2 linked regions of the Homo sapiens genome follow. The protein of the gene in region 1 purifies or fractionates together with the protein of each later gene. This does not show direct contact. Each region holds a gene or a part of one and is shown on either strand. Other genes may lie near its edges.

Region 1 (3,754 bases):
TTTGTTCCTTTTCCATTTAATCCTCTACCTAAAGATGGTTCTACAGGGACCCAAAATGATACAGTACAGGGAAGCATCTTTCAGATTTAGAAGCCTTGATCAAAAGATAAGTTTCAAGGAGAAACAGTGAAAACTGCACACCTTTCAGGCAATCCTACATAAGATTGCAAACCACTGATCTAATCAACCAATCCTTGGAGCTACTATCTTGGAATAGTTTCTTTGTTCGGTTTTAAATAGCAAGTTCCACATGCCAGGGCCTGTGCTTGGCCTGGAATGCCAAGGTGAATAACATGGCCCTTTGCTCGGGAAGCCAACTGTCTTAGTCTGTCCAGGCTACTGTAACAAAAGAGCGTATACTGGGTGGCTTATAAACAACATAAAATTCTTTTCTTTTTTTTTTTTTTGAGATGGAGTCTTGCTCTGTCACCCAAGCTGGAGTGCAGTGGCGTGATCTTGGACCACTGCAACCTCCGCCTCCTGGGTTCAAGCAATTTCTGGCTAATTTTTGTATTTTTAGTAGAGATGGGGTTTCACCATGTTGGCCAGGCTAGTCTTGAACTCCTGACCTCTAGTGATCCACCTGCCTCAGCCTCCCAAAGTGCTGGGATTACAGGCATGAGCCACTCTGCCCTGCCAACAACAGAAACAACTTTTTCACAGTCCTGGAGGCTGGGAAGTTTGAGATCAAGGTGCCTGCAGATTCAGTGTCTGGTGAAGGTCTATTCCTGGCTCTTAGATTTTGCCTTCTTGCTGTGTCCTCAAGTGGTGGAAGGGACTAGCTAGCTCTCTGGGGCCTCTTTTATAAGGGCACTAATCCCATTCATAAGGGCTCTAGTCTTGTGATCTCATCATCTCCCAAAGGTTCCATCTCTCTCTCTCTTTTTTTTTTTTTTTTTTTTTTTTTTGAGACAGAGTCTCACTCTGTCAACCAGGCTGGTGTGCAATGGCACAATCTCGGCTCACTGCAACCTCCACCTCCCAGGTTCAAGCAATACTCTCGCCTCAGCCTCCCAAGTAGCTAGGATTACAAGTGTGTACCACCACACCCGGATATATATATATATTTGTATTTTTAGTAAAGACAGGGTTTTGCCATGATGTTGGCCAGGCTGGTCTTGAACTCCTGACCTCTAGTGATCCACCTGCCCTGGCCTCCCAAAGTTCTGGGATTACAGGCATGAGCCACTGTGCCTGGCCCAAAGATCCCATCTCTTAATATCATCACGTTGGAGGTTAGGATTTCAACATAGGAATTTTAGGGAGACAGAGATAGACCATAGCACTAGCTCACATCTAACAGGGATAAGAGGCAAGTACCTGGAAGAGAGAATTCGGGGTATGGGGGGTTGGGGGCATTCCTGGCTGCAGCAGGGAAGGCCAGGAGGATGAAAGGAAGCATTTGAGTCATTAATAAATGTCATATTTTACTCATCTTACTTTTGCACAGCACTTTGCAAAACTCCCCTTACAGATCTCATTTCATCTTCACAATAGGCCTGTGATAAGGCAGGTGCCACTGTTCCCCTTTTATGGGCTATGAAAACTGAGGCTCAAAGTGGTTGATTTAATGTCACATGCTGGTAAACTGCAAAGCGATGCCTTTAGCTCCCAAGAAAGCTATCTCTGCCACCACACAGCTGCTCCCAAAAGTGCCTATGAGGTGTCGAGGCCAGCCAGGTGGCAGGAATCACAGGGGTGTCCTGCCACCCAGGACTAACCCAGGAACCCAGACACACTAACAAGCCTCTACATGAACACTGAGCCTAGGTGATAGGCAGGGTCGCCTATGGCCTTGACAATTTACACCCCTGCAAAGTGAATCACAGGCCCCTAGTGCCATCCTGCCAGAGACAGCAGAGAAGTGTCTTTCCTGCATTCTCTGGGTTAGGTCTCTGGCCCTGAGCAGCCCTCCGAGAATGGCTGTACTCATTGCCATGCTTCCTGTATGTTCCAGCACCTGCTTCCTGCTCCTGCACCATGAAAGTCCTGCTTTGTGACCTGCTGCTGCTCAGTCTCTTCTCCAGTGTGTTCAGCAGTTGTCAGAGGGACTGTCTCACATGCCAGGAGAAGCTCCACCCAGCCCTGGACAGCTTCGACCTGGAGGTAGGTCTCCAAGGCAAGGCAGAGAGGCTGTCCTCCTCCCTGACTACCTCCTCCCTCCCTACTCCAGAGCAGACTCTGAGTGAGAAGCCAAGGCCTCTCCCACAGCTCACAGGACTTGCTCAGCATTACATGGCCCATAGGAAACAGATCAGACAGGAGCTGCTCTTCTGACCCAGAACCTTACGATCTTTCCACCTTACCACCTGCAGGAAGAGCCCTGCCTGTGATGCCAGGTCATTCCCAGGATTAAAATAATGTTACTCATTTCAGAGAGTTTGGCAAATTCAGAAAAGTATAAAACAAGAGAAATTTAAATCCTCCTTAATTACACCAGTCAGAGAAAGAATCCTACTTTTTTTCACTTACTATATTATACCAGGATAAATTTCTCATGTTATTATTTCTTTCCATGAGTATAGTCTACAGTTGGCCCTTGGTATCTACTGGTTTCACATTCAAGGATTCAACTAACCATGGATAGAAAATATTCAGAAAAAAATAAAAAATACTAATACATCAATGAAAAATAATACAAATAAAGCAATACAGCATAACAACTACTTAAATAGCATTTACATTATATTAAGTATTATAAGTAATCCAGAGATGATTTAAAGTGTACAGGAGGATGTGCATAGCCATTTTATTGATCATTTTTATTTTTATTTATTCATTTTTTTTGAGACAGAGTCTCACTCTGTCACTCAGGCTGGAATGCAGTGGTGCGATCTCAGTTCACTGCAACATCCACCTCGCAGGTTCAAGCAATTCTTCTGCCTCAGCCTCCCAAGTAGCTGGGATTACAGACGCCCACCACCACGCCCCGCTATTTTTTATATTTTTAGTAGAGACGGGTTTCACCACATTGGCCAGGCTGGTCTTGAACCCCTGACCTCAAGTGATCCACCCACCTCATCCTCCCAAAGTGCTGGGATTACAGGCATGAGCCACCGTGCCCCTCCGCATAGCCATTTTATATAAGGGACTTGAGCATCTGCAGATTTAGTATCCTGAAACCAATCCCCTGTGGATACAGAAGGACCGTGTAATTTGTTTAACCACTGAACAGGTATGTGCCCTTTATTTTATTTTATTTTATTTTATTTTATTTTATTTTTTTTTTTTTTTTGAGACGGAGTCTTGCTCTGTCGCCCAGGCTGGAGTGCAGTGGCGCAACCTCGGCTCACTGCAAGCTCTGCCTCCTGGGTTCATGCCATTCTCCTGCCTCAGCCTCCCGAGTAGCTGGGACTAAGGTGCCCACCACCACACCCGGCTACTTTTTTTTTTTTTTTTTTGTATTTTTAGTAGAGATGGGGTTTCACCGTGTTAGGATGGTCTCAATCTCATGACCTCATGATCCACCCGCCTCAGCCTCCCAAAGTGCTGGGATTTACAGGCGTGAGCCACCACGCCTGGCCTGTGCTCTTTATTTTTGATATTGCAGATAACTCAACAGTGAACCCCTTAGTACCAAAATGCTCTCTTATATTTTAAATTTCCAACTTAAGGTGCAAATCCAGTATTAACTTTTTCTTCATTAAATAAACTGCTTTGTCAACTATCTACATTTCAGTCCAGATAGTTACTCCTCTCCTATTAAATCCAGTATAGCTCAATTGTTTTTTACTTTATAGTCAAATAACTTCCT
Region 2 (3,754 bases), on another chromosome or scaffold:
TATAAAAATTTCACTTGCTTTTTTATTACCTTAGTTATGTCCATCAGCTCAGAATCCAGCTGAGAAACTGCATCCTGTACAGAAGAATGATGGGAATACTGCCTTTGTAGTGTCTCCTGTATCTGAAGTTGGATCCTAGCAACCTAGTTTGGGCAGAAAACAGGATGTCTTAATTTATTTATGATAAATCAACATACGTTTGAAAGAACGGATCCTACTATCTGACTTTAAGTTTGCTAAAATAATGTATAAATGAAGATTTCTATCATAATAGGCTAATATTATCATAACAGACATCAACTAAACATAATAGATTTCACAGGAAGTATACTGTGGCAGACTCCTTGCTGCCCAATACTTATACCTTCCAAGACTGTAGCCAAATGGTTAGACTATACAGCTCAGCCTCCTCTGTAGGGGAGGTATGGCCATACAACCAAGTTCTCTTCAAAGGAATGTGAGTAGAAGTAGTGTGTCATGTCAGGGCTATAGTTTTTAAGACAGTGAATGTGTTCTTTCTTTTCCTTCCACCCTCTGCTGAAGATAAAGCAGAGGCCCTAGGGAATGGTAGTGCCAGAAAATAGAACTTGGGTTCCTAAATCAACCACACGGAGGAAAGCCAGCTGCCAATCAGGAAGACTCACCTTGGATTTTTGTGAATAAGAAACAAACTTTTGTATTTGGACGATGGTATGTTTTTGATTCTCTTAGTTAGGGAATTTTAGCCTACTCTACTTCATACATCTACTTATTTGCTTCCAAAATAAATGGTGAATGTGATGTAATCCACTTGCTGTTGAAACAGTTGGGAAAAACATTTATTTTTTATTATTATTATTTTTTGAGACAGAGTCTCAGTCTGTCTCCCAGGCTGGAATGCAGTGGTGCAATCTCAGCTCACTGCAACCTCCGCTTCCTGGGTTCAAGCAATTCTCCTGCCTCAGTCTCCCAAGTAGCTGGGACTACAGGTGTGTGCCACCACCCCCGGCTAATTCTTGTATTTTTTTAAGTAGAGACAAGGTTTCGCCATATTGGCCAGGCTGGTCTCGAACTTCTGACCTCATGATCTGGCTGCCTCGGCCTCCCAAAGTGCTGGGATTACAGGCGTGAGCCACTGCACCCAGCTGGGAAAAACCTTTCGAAGTGCCAAAGAGAAAACTTCTAAATTATAGCAATGTTTTTATGACCCAAGTGCATCCTTAAAAATCTTTAAGATTTATATCTAAACATAAAAATAAATATAAACAGACAAAAGCAACTAGAATAATAATGACTTCTCAGACCTATTACTTACCAAGGGAAGAATGGAATGTGGAATAACTATGTGGCTAGTACTCAATGTGGACACAGCTTAAGATCTTTAGCACTTACCTCCATTTTTTCTTCTAATTCATGAAGAAATTCACCATCGGCAGCTATTGATGAAATGGCAGTGGAACTTTTGGCACTAAGAATGGCTCGAGCAATGTACTCTAGTCGCTGCTGAAGTGAAATTTCTGTGCTAGAAGGGAAAACGCTTATTTTTAGTTACACAATTTCTTAAGGATTGATGATACAAATACGTCAATTAGTATGTACTGTTTCATACCAAACACACATAAAAAGCCATCTGAAACTTGAAAAAAAATCATTAGATTTAAAAAAAAATCTATTTTAGATTTCTCATAAGAGAGATCCACAATTTTAGACAACACATAAAGAAATACATTTATGACTAAAAAGTAACATCCTATTTAAAAAATTTAGGTCAGTATATTAAAACTTAGATTCTTCTAAAATTAAAGAAAACTGAATGTAAGTACATATAGCTCAGTTTTGAATCATTCTTCACAATAAGAATATTATGCCATACCTATGCATGTCAGCCAGTCTGGACAGTACACGAGCAGCATTACTGAAACTTCTGTTCTTCTCGTAATACCGCCAGAGTAAATCCATATAACGAACTCTGTTTTGATCAACTTTGGCCATTCGGACTAGATGTGGCTCCAGAAATGGAGAAGCAACCTAGAAATTATATAGTTATTCAGAAAAATTTTCTAACCACCTACAGATAATGTTCCTGATAAGGAAAATATAGTATTTTTAAGTCAACTACAACTTTGCCTTGTTTTATGAAAACAAGCAAAATTATAATCCAATACTAACAGATAAAAGAGAGGGCAAATTTTCTTATTATAAACAATTTTTGTTTTACCACAGTTAGCATAAGAGTTTCCAAAACAATTCTATTAGGTTGATAACAATAATTTAGTAGGCTGGGCATGGCGACTCATGTCTGTAATCCTCGCACTTTGGGAGGCCGAGGTGGGCAGATCATGTGAGCTCAGGAGTTTGAGACCAGCCTGGGCAATATATGGCAAAACCTCGTCTCTACAAAAAAATTAGCTGGGTGTGGTGGTGCGGGCCTATAGTTCTAGTTACTCAGGAGGGTTAGGTGTGAGGATCACCTGAGCCTAGGGAGGTCAAGGCTACAGTGAGCCATTATCGTGCCATTGCACTGCACTTCAGCCTAAGCTACAGATTGAGACCCTGCCTCAAAAAAGAAAAGGAAATTTGGCCGGGCACAGTGGTTCATGCCTGTAATCCCAGCACTTCGGGAAGCTGAGGTGGGCAGATCACCTGAGCTCAGGAGTTTGAGACCAGCCTGGCCAACATGGTAAAACCCCGTCTCTACTAAAAAGATATAAAAATTAGCTGTGCGTGGTGGCGGGTGCCTGTAATCCCAGCTACTTGGGAGGCTGAAGCAGGAGGATTGCTGGAACCCGGGAGGCGGAGGTTGCAGTGAGCTGAGATCATGCCACTGCACTCCAGCCTGGGCAACAGAGCCAGACTCCATCTCAAAAAAAAAAAAAAAAAAAAAAAAGGGAAATTTACTATAAAATTACAAATTTTTAAATAAACTTTGATAACACAGCTATTGATTCCTAGACATTGAGCTCAAAGGCATTATTGAAATTATCAAATGCTATGTATTCATTAAACAGATTGAGGAACACTGAAACTTAGGGTAGGTAAAAGGACATATCTGAAGTCACAGTGACTTAACAGCAGAGTTAAGATAAGATGACCTACAGGACTCATATTCATAATCCAGTGATTTCTACCCCGCAATACAAACTATCCCAATCAGCTTCGAATTAACAAGAAAATTGGAGCAGTAGCCTACTTTGCCCCTTAGGAAAAGATACTGCATTACTCAGCTTTATACTAACATCTAATAGCAGGCATGGGATGAGAAACTGAATTTTTTACATCTATATATGTGCTTAAATCATTGAGTTATGCTCCTTAAGAATAATTAACACAACTGCAATAAAAAAAGATTTACCTGTAGCAGCTTATCTGCAAGGTCGACTTGTATTAGCCAATTATAAAGGGCAATACTAAAGAGCTCATCCTTGGATCGCTGTGACAATTTAAGCATTTGTTCAAACTAAAATAAAGAAAATAGTAAAAATTAGCAGTTAAAGGCTCTGTTTCTGGGCATCACAACCCTTTAGCCCTATAAACTCCAGTAAGAAATCAAGAATCCTTACATGATAACTTCTAAGAACTACCACCTTTCCCCAAGATGACTGTGCTACCATTACCATGGAGAACTTCTAAACAGTGTATTCTCAGAATGAAAATATACTATGTCCCTTACATGATGTCCTGCTTCTTCATTACTCAGCATATTTGGATCAGATGACAACACTGGAGGACCAGGTTTTTTGGGTACACTGGGAGACTGAGGAGCGGCCTTACTTTG

The links. Proteins that work in one complex are often made in the same cells at the same time.
Region 2: the proteins of PNOC (region 1) and NUP155 purify together in Homo sapiens (co-immunoprecipitation; 2 studies listed by BioGRID and IntAct, with this or other methods). This does not show direct contact.

What each region holds. Positions count from the first base shown.
Region 1 is NC_000008.11:28,327,178-28,330,931, forward strand, and holds part of PNOC (prepronociceptin isoform 1 preproprotein), read left to right. Parts: intron 1-1,957; 5' UTR 1,958-1,980; coding exon 1,981-2,106; intron 2,107-3,754.
Region 2 is NC_000005.10:37,301,408-37,305,161, forward strand, and holds part of NUP155 (nuclear pore complex protein Nup155), read right to left. Parts: coding exon 3,650-3,754; intron 3,437-3,649; coding exon 3,332-3,436; intron 2,008-3,331; coding exon 1,853-2,007; intron 1,502-1,852; coding exon 1,372-1,501; intron 144-1,371; coding exon 30-143; intron 1-29.